Linked DNA regions of Homo sapiens. The protein of the gene in region 1 purifies or fractionates together with the protein of each later gene. This does not show direct contact. Each region holds a gene or a part of one and is shown on either strand. Other genes may lie near its edges.

The links. Proteins that work in one complex are often made in the same cells at the same time.
Region 2: the proteins of EPG5 (region 1) and HTR1E purify together in Homo sapiens (co-immunoprecipitation; one large-scale study listed by IntAct). This does not show direct contact.
Region 3: the proteins of EPG5 (region 1) and VSIG1 purify together in Homo sapiens (co-immunoprecipitation; one large-scale study listed by IntAct). This does not show direct contact.
Region 4: the proteins of EPG5 (region 1) and P2RY8 purify together in Homo sapiens (co-immunoprecipitation; one large-scale study listed by IntAct). This does not show direct contact.

Annotation. Positions count from the first base shown.
Region 1 is NC_000018.10:45,847,109-45,849,719, reverse strand, and holds the end of EPG5 (ectopic P granules protein 5 homolog), read left to right. Parts: 3' UTR 1-2,111; downstream 2,112-2,611. UniProt on the Homo sapiens protein: Involved in autophagy. May play a role in a late step of autophagy, such as clearance of autophagosomal cargo.
Region 2 is NC_000006.12:86,940,528-86,944,027, reverse strand, and holds part of HTR1E (5-hydroxytryptamine receptor 1E), read right to left. Parts: intron 1-3,500. UniProt on the Homo sapiens protein: G-protein coupled receptor for 5-hydroxytryptamine (serotonin). Also functions as a receptor for various alkaloids and psychoactive substances.
Region 3 is NC_000023.11:108,048,065-108,051,564, forward strand, and holds part of VSIG1 (V-set and immunoglobulin domain-containing protein 1 isoform 2 precursor), read left to right. Parts: intron 1-3,500.
Region 4 is NC_000023.11:1,464,186-1,467,685, reverse strand, and holds part of P2RY8 (S-geranylgeranyl-glutathione receptor P2RY8), read left to right. Parts: intron 1-467; exon of another isoform or gene 468-655; intron 656-1,103; 5' UTR 1,104-1,127; coding exon 1,128-2,207; 3' UTR 2,208-3,500. UniProt on the Homo sapiens protein: G protein-coupled receptor for S-geranylgeranyl-glutathione (GGG), an endogenous metabolite present in lymphoid tissues.

The sequences.
Region 1 (2,611 bases):
TTGTGTGCCTGCGTCTCTCACTTCTTTGAGGTTGGGGAAAGCCTAGTCCAGAAAATGAAAACCCATAGACCAGCCTAACTTCCTTTCAACCAAGTGACGGCCTCCTGGTTCCTCTCAGTTCATCATCAAAATCAGTGTGTACATGTCATACAAGCCAAGAGTGTTCATGTCCTCGTTCCTTTCAAATGAAGGTGATATATACTTTTTCACTGAGTTTTTATTCCTGAAATTCTTTCTTCTGGAGCAGGAAGCAAATGTCCTGGAATCGTAGACTTTTACAGTCAGAAGGGTCATTCACGTTCATCTAGTGCCCCTCTCACTCTGCAGGGATCCTCCTGCCTCTCCTCTGCCCCTGTCCAGTGCCTGGTGGTCCAGCCTGTGATGGGCAGGCCTAGGCTGCCATCCGCAGGCTCTGTAGTTCTGCTTTCTATTGAACCAAGATGTTTCTACGTTGCCTATTGGTCGTGGTTCTGTCCAGAGCAGTTCAGGCTGGGGCTGTTCACTTGCCCCTCCTTGAGGCAGACCTTTAGATATTTTCAGTTTTCATCACATGTCTAACACCACTTCCACCCCACCCCTCACCTCTTAGGCTAAATCCAAGCTAAATCCCCCAATGTCTTTTTTTTTTTTTTTTTTTTGAGACGAGTCTCATCTGTCACCCAGGCTGGAGTGCAATGGCATGGTCTCGGCTCACTGCAACCTCCGCCTCCTGGGTTCAAGCTATTCTGCCTCAGCCTCCCAAGGAGCCAGGACTACAGGTGCATGCCACCACGCCCGGCTAATTTTTGTATTTTTTAGTAGAGACAGGGTTTCACCCAGCCATTGAGACAAGCTGGTTTCAAACTCCTGACCTTGTGGTCCGCCCGCCCCGGCCTCCCAGAGTGCTGGGATTACAGGCGTGAGCCACCGCGCCCATCTCCCCTGCAATGTCTTTAGTTAGACCTTTTCCACCATCATGTCTAACTGGGCTACGGTTTGGGGAAAGTGTCCAAATTAGTCCGTGTTATCCTAAAAGGGGTGTGCCCCGGATTAGCAGGGCCAGGGCTAGGGTGAGACAAATGAGGCACCTGGGGCATACATTTAAGTTGGTGCTTGCTTGCAGGTGCCAAGAGAGTGCTTCCTTGGGTTTACCCCCGTGGTGCCTCCTTTACCTCATTCTGGCCCCAGCCCTGGGGTTAGAGTCGCACCAGTGTGGTCCAAGTGGCATAATTATCTCCCTAAATGCTTGGGCAGCATCAGCTTTCAGTAGCTGTGCCCCATGGGAGGCACATTAAGCTAGTGGCAAGTTGAGACTGCAGACCTCAGCTTAATATCAGTTGTTGCCCAAGACAGATCTCACCCCACATCTTCATGACAGGCCTAACAACAAGGCACTTTGCCCTTAATCCTCTACTACTGCCTGCTCTTCATTTTGGGCCAACTGTACAGCTCATTTTGAGATAGTAGCTGATCATTTTTCTGATCAGTTAACTTTGTCTTATTAAGCAAAATGGAGAATATAATGTTGGGAAATAAGTGTGTTGATTAAAAGAAAGTATCCCCTTCTACCATCTTCCATTTGTGTCTGGGTTGTGCTGGGTAAAGTTCTAGACTTACTAACGCAGACTTCATTTTGGTCCGGTTTCCACAGCATGCCTCGGGCATCAGTGTCCAGGAGTAGCTGTATTTGAGGTTTCCTTCACTCTGGTAGGTTCCTGATTCCTGATGAAAATAACTTGAAAAAAAAATAATTATACTACTGATCCTCTTTTGGGATAATGAAATTGCGAAGGAATGTTGTTGATTATAACTTTTATTTTTTAATGTACAGATGTACTGTCTCTCATTGAGCACTGATAGAATTTATTTTTCTTTCAATAGTTTAAAATCACTTATGTGGAGACACATACTTAAGTGTGTTCAACTCGTTTTCTTCCCACATATCTAGTGTGACCTTTAAAAACCACAACTTTATTTTGGACATTAAATGTGCAATATTCACTACTTATTCATTGTTCCACATTTTTCATACTTGTACAAAGGGTAAGTTTTTATATAATGGTGAGAAACAGGAAGAAATGACAACTGGTTAAGTAAAATTCTGCAAATAAACTAGATTCGAATTTAATTTACACATGGCGGGCCTGTCTCATTGTTTCCTGCAAGTTGGTTGACAGTCTTTTCATACATTAAACCACAATAAGAAAAATTTTATATGAGAAACTTCGTAATGGATAGAATAGTTATTTTGTGACCTTTCACCACGATGGGCGAGGCCTCTAATTTCAAAGAGAAGTTTTAACTTGAGAATTTCAGAATTGGCAGGGACAGGAGGCCACCTGCTGATCTCAGAGAGGTCAGGAGGGTCTGTGATGTGGCCTTGAGCTTGGTAAGAGCAGGGCCATAAAAATTGCACAAATGAGGTGGGAGTGGGGGTGCTTCTGGCAGTGTAACCCCAGCTTGGTCATGGTCTGCTGGGGAAATCCACCTTCAGTGGTGGGATGCCCAGGGAGTTCTCTTTAGTGTTATTTTTCACTCACATTTGTAAGATGCACTTTGAATGGGCCAAGGTGTGGAGAAGGGTCTGCACATTCCATTTGAGAATTAAACCAATTTGGGATTCCTTAGGGAC
Region 2 (3,500 bases), on another chromosome or scaffold:
TGTCAACAGCCACGTGAGCGAGCTTGGAAGCGTTACCTTTCCCCAGTTGAGCCTTGAGATGTCTGCAGTCTCGGCTGAAACTTTGCAGCCTGTGAGTGACAGACCTGAGCCAGAGGACCTAGCTAAGCCATACCCAGATTCCCAACCCATGGAACTATGATCATAGAGATAATAAAAATCTGTTGCTTTAAGCCATTAGGTTTTGGGGTAATTTATTATTTAGCAATAATGAATACACACATTTAATCCTCATAAATAGCCCTATGACATAGTACTGTTATGTGAGCCCCAACAAATGAGGAAACTGAGGTTTAGAGATGTGAAAGCAGTTAATGAATGGCAGAGCTGGGATATGAACCTGGCTTTCTGGACTCGAGAGCTTGGGCTTGAGCCCCATGCTGTGTTACCCCCTAGTAGTATAACACAAGGTGCAGTTTGACATCACAGGTGACAATGAATCACAATAGCATATTCTGTTTTGAGAAACTTCCCTGAAAGGAGGCTGAGGTAGACAGGGCATGTATTATTGTCCCCATTGTAACGATGACAGACCATGCAGCTCATACAGCCAAGAGAATGGGGTATTAACCCAGGCCTTCTGACCCCAGGTCCGTAGAGTTGGGCCTGTGCTTCACTGCCACGCTGGCACTGTGGCACTCACTGTACATTCAGCAAGCCCTGAGGAAGCTGGCGGGAGCTTAGCTGACATGCACAGGGTAGGTCAGTTTGTTCTCTGGAGAGCATTCCATGAGATGCAAATATCTTCACACAGGCCTGGGTTAATACCCCATCCTCTTGGCTGTGTGTAGACCCTCTCACCCTTAGATTCAGACTCATTTTACTAAACAGGCAAAACATAGCTACAAATTTCATGTATTTTAATATAACAGGACTATGTGGTAATAGTAACAATACTATGTAATCATTAACTGTTAATTAAATGCATGCTAATGGTACATAAGTCTGAGAAAGGGTACTCAGTACACTTAATGCAATGTGAGAGATTATCTCAAAGCCAATGGGACCCGGCTGGACATCTTTTGTGCTGGAGAAATTACTCCATCTGCATCACAAGAGCATTGCCTCTGTCACCAAGCTGAAAGTAATCAAGTCTTGTGAGCTTTGAGACTTTTGCTTCCTCTAAAGTCATTTTTCATCCCTTCTTGGTAAGATGCTTCATTTATATGTAAGTCACCAAACCCTGGGGTCAGTACAGTCTGGTTCTCCAATGCCTCGGACATAAAGTAAAACCTTGATGGTCTTAGAAACAGGCTTACTGTATTGCAGAGAGGGTGAGGAGATTACATTGTTTTACCAGTTTACAATCTATGAAATAAAATATGCTTGCCAATATGAATGCATCTTGTAAATGATGTATTTGCTAATTATAAATTAAGTTACATATTTAATCCTTGATTTTTTAGAGCATTGTGTAAGGAATTGAATTAGGTTCAGAAGGAAAGAATGGTAAGAAAGTTAAAATGGCTCAAATGAAAGCATAATAAAAGAGGAAATCATGCTTCTTTCTTTGAATGTTAAATTATGATGAACTATATGGTAGGATAGTGTTTATGGATGACTGTATATCAAATTCTTGTGTTAGGTAACAAATACTTCCTTGACTAGGGCAGAGTTCAACATTAAAATTAGGACTATGTAATAAAGTTTAAAATGTAAGGTACTTAAGTAAGTATACAATTCTTGTTTACTTACAGGAAAGAATTAATTACAATGACAAACTACACTGTCAGAAATCATATAAGGATAAATATTACTGAATTCAGAGGGATGAGTTTGGAATGTGGAATCCTTTTCTGTAGGTTCTTCTTCCTCCATCTTCCTCAGATGAGGTGGGCTTTCCTTTCCCATTTTTCTTGGATGCTAACAGCATCTTTTATACCTCTCAGGCATGTTTTCTGCCCAACAGTGTACAAGCGTAATATAAATCCCTATGATTATATTGTCGCTAACCAGGCAAGCTATTGTAGCTAGCCACCTTACTGGGTTCTCTTATTCTTTCTAATGGCATTTTTATGTATCCCCTTGAATTTTCCTAGTAGCTAATTATTTAATCTGTCATTAATAATAAAACTTTTCCCTGACCAATATTTATAACACTTCCCTCCTTCCCTCCTTCCCTTCCTTCCTTCCTTCCTTCCTTTCTTCTTTCCTTCCTTCATTCCTTCCTTCCTTGCTCCCTTCCTCCCTCCCTAATGGGGTCATTAGGAGGATCTGAGAGTTTTAGAACTGCTAGCTGCTGCTGCTGGTAGCTATTTCTCAAAATATTTTCTTCTTGCTATAAAATGCTTTCCTTCTCATACCAGATTTCATAAAGACCTTCCATCTGGTCTGCACTGATAACTAGAATCCAGAGATGCTCATTCCTCTTACAACTTGTAGTTTAAAATGATCCAGATGCAGAAGGATTAGGTTTCATAGCTTCTTCTAAAGGATTTTGTCTTCCTAATCCTACAACTGCATGTGTTGAGAATTGATCAGCATGAGAGAGTGCTAACAATAAACCTATTAAAGTGTCCAGTTTTTCATTTGACGTGTTTTAGGGGAATACAACAATGGGATCAAAACACTGACATCTATTCAGGTAAGGACTGCAGTAAACCAGATAATCCACAGTGCATGAGACAAAATAAGAGAACTAAAAATGAAAGACAAAATTATAGTCAATCTGTATTAGAAAGAGGGTTCTCAAGAATTTTATCAATTTGTTGTGATCCGGGAATATGCCAATTGATTGAGTGATCTCTATAAATTCTGGTTCTCAGTTTCTTAATCCACAAAATGTGGGAACGAATAAAAAGTAGCTGGGATTTTGATGAAAGTCCTTTCATCACCAGGAAGATGAACTTTGGTAAGTTGACTGACCTAAGCCCCAAATTTTAGGGGCCACAATACTGGTTCTAGAAAATGATTCAGGGAGGAGAAAACAAGAGAGAAGTAAGTCACTCTAAAGTGCTGCTGCCCCATTTCTCTTCCCTGTTCATCTGTCCCCTCGTCACTTGTGACGGCACACTCATCTTCAATGTTTCCCTGGGGTTTATGTTCATATAATTTCACATGTAATAAAAATCTGGTAGGTGCAGAAGAAAGGAGCATAAAGCATGAGATGCTAAACTCACCTCTGCCTTGAGATGGCCTTGATAATTTACGGCATAAAAAGTAAGTTCCTATTTGGTAGAAATTCAGCTTTTGATCAGTCTCAAGCTTATTTTTTTGTGTAAATAAGCTTGTAGAAATAGAGGGAATGCTTTCCCACATTAGAGCGTTAGATTTGATCTTTCACTTTTAAAGGGTAGTGCAGAAATAGAATTCCAGGGTGGGCAATCAAAACAAACATGAAAAAAATGATCTGTGTGTAAAAGTGAGATGTAGGGAATTAGACTTGAGTAATGAGAAGATGACACAAAAGTTCAGGGCCTGAGGCTTTCTGCAAAGAGACCTACTTTCTTTTTCTTTCTTTTCTTTTCTTTTTTTGAGACAAG
Region 3 (3,500 bases), on another chromosome or scaffold:
ACGATCTCGGCCCACCGCAACTTCCGCCTTCCGGGTTCAAGTGATTCTACTGCCTCAGCCTCCTGAGTAGCTGGGATTACAGGCATGCACCACCACGCCCGGCTAATTTTGTATTTTTGGTAGAGACAGGGTTTCTCCATGTTGGTCAGGCTGGTCTTGAACTCCCAACCTCAGGCGACCCGCCCACCTCAGCCTCCCAAAGTGTTGGGATTACAGGCGTGAGCCACTGCGCCCAGCCTAAAAATATTTTTAAATGTTGATTAAGTGTGTACATCTTGGATTATTTTTCTTTAATAATAAGCACTTTTTTAATTATTATTATACTTTAAGTTTTAGGATACATGTGCACAACGTGCAGGTAAGCACTGGTTTTTAAAAGAGATTACACATATTTCAACCACATATGCATTTTTGTTTTGTTTTTAAATTTGGTCAAGTCAGAGAGGGACATTGCGTTCTTGGGTTTTGTTTAAATCAGATACTAATCTTTACTTTGCTATTTATTCACAGTCCTATTGATGTAGAGATTTTTCTGACTTATTCAATTTTTAAATAATTTCTCAACTTAGAATGACTTAATCCAAAGGAAGGGAACTTTTTTCCCTGACACTCAGAGAATCACCTCCACTTTAGGACTAAGTTTGCACTGCCCATTGTCTACATGTGGCTATTGAAATTTAAATCACTTCAGATTAATGAAAATTATAAAGTCAGTTCCTCAGTTTCACTAGCCACATTTCAAGTGTTTGATAATTCTATTTGGGCTACTGAACTGGATGGCGCAGAGATAGAACATTTCCATCATCACAGGAAGTTCTGTTGGACAGCACTGTAAGGGTGAGCTCAGAGGTTTTAAGTAATGTGCACTAATTGAATGATGTGACATTTTAAAAAGGCTCATCTGGAAATATATAACTTTTAGCTCTGAAGCATATCATCACTATATCATGGTTGGACAATGTCTGAAAAACATCTTTTCTTCAGAATTTAATTGGTTATGGTGCTAAGAATTGGGAATCTGGGCAATAAAATGGCCTGGAGGTTTTGCTTTGCCAACTGTTACTTATTTACATGACAATGTGTAGTACCTCAAAAAATATTGTCTCACTTTAAAATTTGAAATTACCATCCTAATTCCAAGGTGATATTATTAAACTTTTGCAGATTTCTAATTAGTTACACATTTATATATCTTCTATATTTAAAATGTTAGAAATGTTTGAATCAGATTTATATTTTCCAAATCCTTGATTTTCATTCACCTCTATTCTCATCTGTGCTATAAATGGCTTCCTGCTGCACTGAGGGATGGCAGAGATTGTGTCTGTCATGTTCATTCTTGTTTCCCCAGTGTTCAGCACTGTTTGTGGCACAAAATGGGTGCTCAATTGATATTTGTTGCTAGGCTCCACAGCCTCTTCCATGGCTTGACTTGTGTGAGTACTGTGTGTACTCTGCCATCAAACACTTTTTCCAAGAGTGGTCTTCAAAGGGGGTTTGTGGGGTTTTGTTTATTGTTTTGCCTTATCTGTTCATAAATTCTCACCCTTAACCAATCTCGTAACAGATACTGGGTCCCAAACTAGAGAACAAAAATTATGGCCAAATAATATCTCTAAAATCTCTGTTTTTAGGGAATAAGTCTGGGAACTTTAAGGGCTACCAAAACCCCAGTTTTATCCTTTTTATTTTGGACACTTTAAAGACATTTGGAAGTCATCATTTAAGCACGGCCAGAGATGTGGCTAACTTCCAGGAGAAATGAAATGGGCTCTTTGAGGGTGGGAGGGAACCATCTTTCTCCAGTGAAGTTTTTGTTGGAAAGATTAGCTGCTTTCTGAAAGCCAATTTCCTTTTTGGAGGAGGCATTATGGAAACCAGGAAAGCATGGGGAGGAGAATATTGGGAAGAGGGAAACTGTATGGAGTTAAAAAGTGCTGCATTTTTGTTTGCATTCAGGCACTTTTCTTAATTTATCAGTGCATTGGTTGCCATGTAAACAGCCAGCTTCTGGCAGGAAAGCAGCTGGACCAGGTGACCTGGCTGTGACAGAGAACACAGATATTGAATCCATGAAACCAAGAGTAATCAGTACAACGATTTTTTTTCTTTTACTTTTTAAAAGTGTTTGTCAATCCTTTAAGTTCTTTTTGTCTGACTGCTGTCATTAAGTAAGAAAAATATGAAATAAATAAGTCTTTGGGTATGCAAAATTGGGAAGATGGACAGGAATTAGTCCCTCTATGCAATTTCCTCTGAATCTTTCATAATTTCTGTATCCTCATCCCTTCACCCTCAACCCTCCAACACCCTCTGTTACCCTGCAGGCAACTAGGACAGCATAGAGAGCGTCTCTTGAACTTGACTTTCTCTTCCAGTGCTTGCCTGCCAATCCCGTGACCCATCCTGGAGAACTTTTATAGTCTTCGACAATGCAATGCATAGCAACCAGTTAATAAGATAAGACAGTGACTGTATAGTGCTCCCCAAAGTGCCATCACCTAAAATAGCCCTTTGGAAAGTGCTCATATAGAACTGAGAATTTTAGTGTAGTGGCAGGCTGGATTTGGGTAGGGTGCCCTTCGGTGGGCCTCCAAATCCTATGGGGAGCTTAATTACTTCATCTTTCTGTAAGGCCAACAGTTCTCAAAATTTGTGGTCTCAGGACAATTTTACACTCTTAAAAACTGAGGGAGATTTCTGGTCTGGACATGTAGTACAGACCTGTTTTTCATTGTTCCTCCCTGCTAAGCACAAGTATAAACCCTGGAAATAATGCAAGAGACAACCAGGGTAGAACTCTGGAAGGTTGTAAGGAGAAGGCAAACTGGTTTGAGACCCAGGGAAAAACAAAGAGCAAGGGTATCCTATGTTTCCCACCCAGCAGAAGAAAGAAACCTAGTCCTGGCCATTCCTGATACCCAACTGAACAACAGAGGGCAGCCCAGGTAAGCTTACTCCTCCCTCAGAGTCCCTCTGACAACATCAGGTAGGCCCAACACCACAGGTAAGGGGGGATCTTCAGAAACCCCACCAACAACAGTGGACAAAAGAAGCATTTGCCTTCTCCCCAGGCCTGAGATGTCCCACTTTCACCTAGAGATATCGAGGTGGGAGGGTAGAACAGACACGAGGCATAAAGTGATGGCAAGCGGCCCAGTCTGGGAAGGCTCTGTCTCAGTGGGTGTATGACTGTCCTCTCCTACCCATAGAGACACCAACAGTGCAGGGCGCCAGTAGAAGTGTCCCACCATACCTACCCCAACTGAGAGGCACCTGGAAGCCTGACCTAGGGAAACCTTTCTGCTCCTTCAGGCGATATGATCTGGGACAAATGTCAGCCTCAGTGATATCCGATAAACCAAACAGAGCAAAACAATACTGAAAATTAAACTGCTGTTAGAACAACAGACCACAAAAGTAAGCCAACACCTGCTTGCATGTGAAGCATAAATAATGTGACTGACTGCAAAAATAAAAAATGTAAATATGAGTTTCCT
Region 4 (3,500 bases), on another chromosome or scaffold:
AACAAACAAAAGAACAATTCCAGGGCACCCCTGTTTCCAGCTCTGTCCACTTTACATTCTCAAAATAAAAGTAGTGTCCCTTTGACAGACACTTTTTCATCACCAGCTCATGGATAAAGCGTCTCTCCTTCCAGACGTCCCCCACGGCCACACCAAGCGGAACCCAAAGAAGGAAGGGTCTGCTTTTCCTCCTGAAGCCATAGGTGGCTGGAGGTGCCCAGCTGGCCGTGGGGAGCGGTGCTGACTCGTGCATAACTGTAGGTTTCACACCTGGGCACGGACCGGCGGGTCAGAAAACTTCTCCCTGAAACTGAAACGAAAACTCCGGGCCATTTTAAAGCCAGCTTGAGGAAGCTGTTTGTAGAGCAGTTGGTAAGAAGTCGCAGGTCTCCTCTGGAGGAAGAAAGAGCAGGGAGGAGCCGTGGGTTGACGCGGGTGTTAAAAGCTGGAAAGACTTTGGAGGCTGCGGGTTGGTCTCCTGGCACTCGGAGTGTGTGTTTTCTGCTGATAGACACTTTGTGGGTGGATGCCCCTGAGATGAGAGGACTCATACCCAGACTAATACTGCCAGGGTGTCAAGAATTCCCATTAAGACCACCCTGGGGGCTGACGGTGGCTTTGTGGTTTCCGTCCACGGGGGACACTGAGTCTTGAGGTTTGTATGACAATGCATTCAACCTGCCCAGGGGAGCCACAGCCCCACTGTGGATCATCTAAGAGTCTCAGCCTCTGACGTGGGCCGAGGTCTCCAATGACCTCCCTGATCCAAGGAAGGACGGGAGGGAGGGAGGGCGGGAAGGAAGGAAGGAAGGAAGGAAGGAGGGAAGAAGAGAAGGAAGGAGAGAGGAGGAAGGAAGAAGAAAGGGGAGAAGACAGGAAAGAAGAAAAGAATGACACAGGGTGAAGAAAGGAGGCAGAGAGGGAGGGAAGGAAGGAGGAGAGGGAAGGAGGAACTAAGGGAGGGAGGGAGGGAGGAGACAGCAGGCCCTGCTAAAGCATCTCCCCCGCCTTGGTCCCCGGGGAGCGGCGCTCAGGAGCCCTCCCGGCAGCCGCCTCTTTACCTGCGCCCCTGACCCGTACACCCTTCCCTCCTTCCCTTGCAGAGCCCGGGCGAGGACCCCTCCAGGATGCAGGTCCCGAACAGCACCGGCCCGGACAACGCGACGCTGCAGATGCTGCGGAACCCGGCGATCGCGGTGGCCCTGCCCGTGGTGTACTCGCTGGTGGCGGCGGTCAGCATCCCGGGCAACCTCTTCTCTCTGTGGGTGCTGTGCCGGCGCATGGGGCCCAGATCCCCGTCGGTCATCTTCATGATCAACCTGAGCGTCACGGACCTGATGCTGGCCAGCGTGTTGCCTTTCCAAATCTACTACCATTGCAACCGCCACCACTGGGTATTCGGGGTGCTGCTTTGCAACGTGGTGACCGTGGCCTTTTACGCAAACATGTATTCCAGCATCCTCACCATGACCTGTATCAGCGTGGAGCGCTTCCTGGGGGTCCTGTACCCGCTCAGCTCCAAGCGCTGGCGCCGCCGTCGTTACGCGGTGGCCGCGTGTGCAGGGACCTGGCTGCTGCTCCTGACCGCCCTGTCCCCGCTGGCGCGCACCGATCTCACCTACCCGGTGCACGCCCTGGGCATCATCACCTGCTTCGACGTCCTCAAGTGGACGATGCTCCCCAGCGTGGCCATGTGGGCCGTGTTCCTCTTCACCATCTTCATCCTGCTGTTCCTCATCCCGTTCGTGATCACCGTGGCTTGTTACACGGCCACCATCCTCAAGCTGTTGCGCACGGAGGAGGCGCACGGCCGGGAGCAGCGGAGGCGCGCGGTGGGCCTGGCCGCGGTGGTCTTGCTGGCCTTTGTCACCTGCTTCGCCCCCAACAACTTCGTGCTCCTGGCGCACATCGTGAGCCGCCTGTTCTACGGCAAGAGCTACTACCACGTGTACAAGCTCACGCTGTGTCTCAGCTGCCTCAACAACTGTCTGGACCCGTTTGTTTATTACTTTGCGTCCCGGGAATTCCAGCTGCGCCTGCGGGAATATTTGGGCTGCCGCCGGGTGCCCAGAGACACCCTGGACACGCGCCGCGAGAGCCTCTTCTCCGCCAGGACCACGTCCGTGCGCTCCGAGGCCGGTGCGCACCCTGAAGGGATGGAGGGAGCCACCAGGCCCGGCCTCCAGAGGCAGGAGAGTGTGTTCTGAGTCCCGGGGGCGCAGCTTGGAGAGCCGGGGGCGCAGCTTGGAGATCCAGGGGCGCATGGAGAGGCCACGGTGCCAGAGGTTCAGGGAGAACAGCTGCGTTGCTCCCAGGCACTGCAGAGGCCCGGTGGGGAAGGGTCTCCAGGCTTTATTCCTCCCAGGCACTGCAGAGGCACCGGTGAGGAAGGGTCTCCAGGCTTCACTCAGGGTAGAGAAACAAGCAAAGCCCAGCAGCGCACAGGGTGCTTGTTATCCTGCAGAGGGTGCCTCTGCCTCTCTGTGTCAGGGGACAGCTTGTGTCACCACGCCCGGCTAATTTTTGTATTTTTTTTAGTAGAGCTGGGCTGTCACCCCCGAGCTCCTTAGACACTCCTCACACCTGTCCATACCCGAGGGTGGATATTCAACCAGCCCCACCGCCTACCCGACTCGGTTTCTGGATATCCTCCGTGGGCGAACTGCGAGCCCCATTCCCAGCTCTTCTCCCTGCTGACATCGTCCCTTAGTTGTGGTTCTGGCCTTCTCCATTCTCCTCCAGGGGTTCTGGTCTCCGTAGCCCGGTGCACGCCGAAATTTCTGTTTATTTCACTCAGGGGCACTGTGGTTGCTGTGGTTGGAATTCTTCTTTCAGAGGAGCGCCTGGGGCTCCTGCAAGTCAGCTACTCTCCGTGCCCACTTCCCCCCACACACACACCCCACCCTGTTGCTGACCAAGGTGATTTTTGGCACATTTGTTCTGGCCTGGCTTGGTGGGACCCCACCCCTATTCTGCTTCTGTGAGTCCCTGATAGAGAAGGAGGTCCCATCAGGCCCCTGGAACACACTCAGGCTTCCCTGACTCAGGACAAGGACCACGGGAGGCCCAGGTGCGGAAAGGAGGCTCCGTGAGATGGGGTCCAGCCCATCCCAACACAAGGGTGCAGCTTGATTCGGGAGTTCCCCACCTCCTGCCCATTCTCCGCGTCCTTTTACCCCATGGAGAGCCTCAGCCATGGCAAGTCCATCTGGAGTCCAGGAAGCAGGCAACTGGCCTGACCCATGAGACCGTTTGGAGACCAAGCAGCAGATGCAGGTGTGGACCCCAGGAACCTACAGGGGTGTCAGCCGCTGAGCCCCCTCCCTGCTGTGTGGGTGGTGAGCAGGCTGGGTCTTTGTCTGTCTTCTTCTACACGGCATGTGCCTGCACCAGCCCCAACACCTGAGCTGGTTTAGCGCAAAGAAGAGCTCTGACTCTCCAGGGGTGCTGGGACATCACGTGGAATTGGATCCCAGGCTCTCTTGGGCGAGAAAGACCAT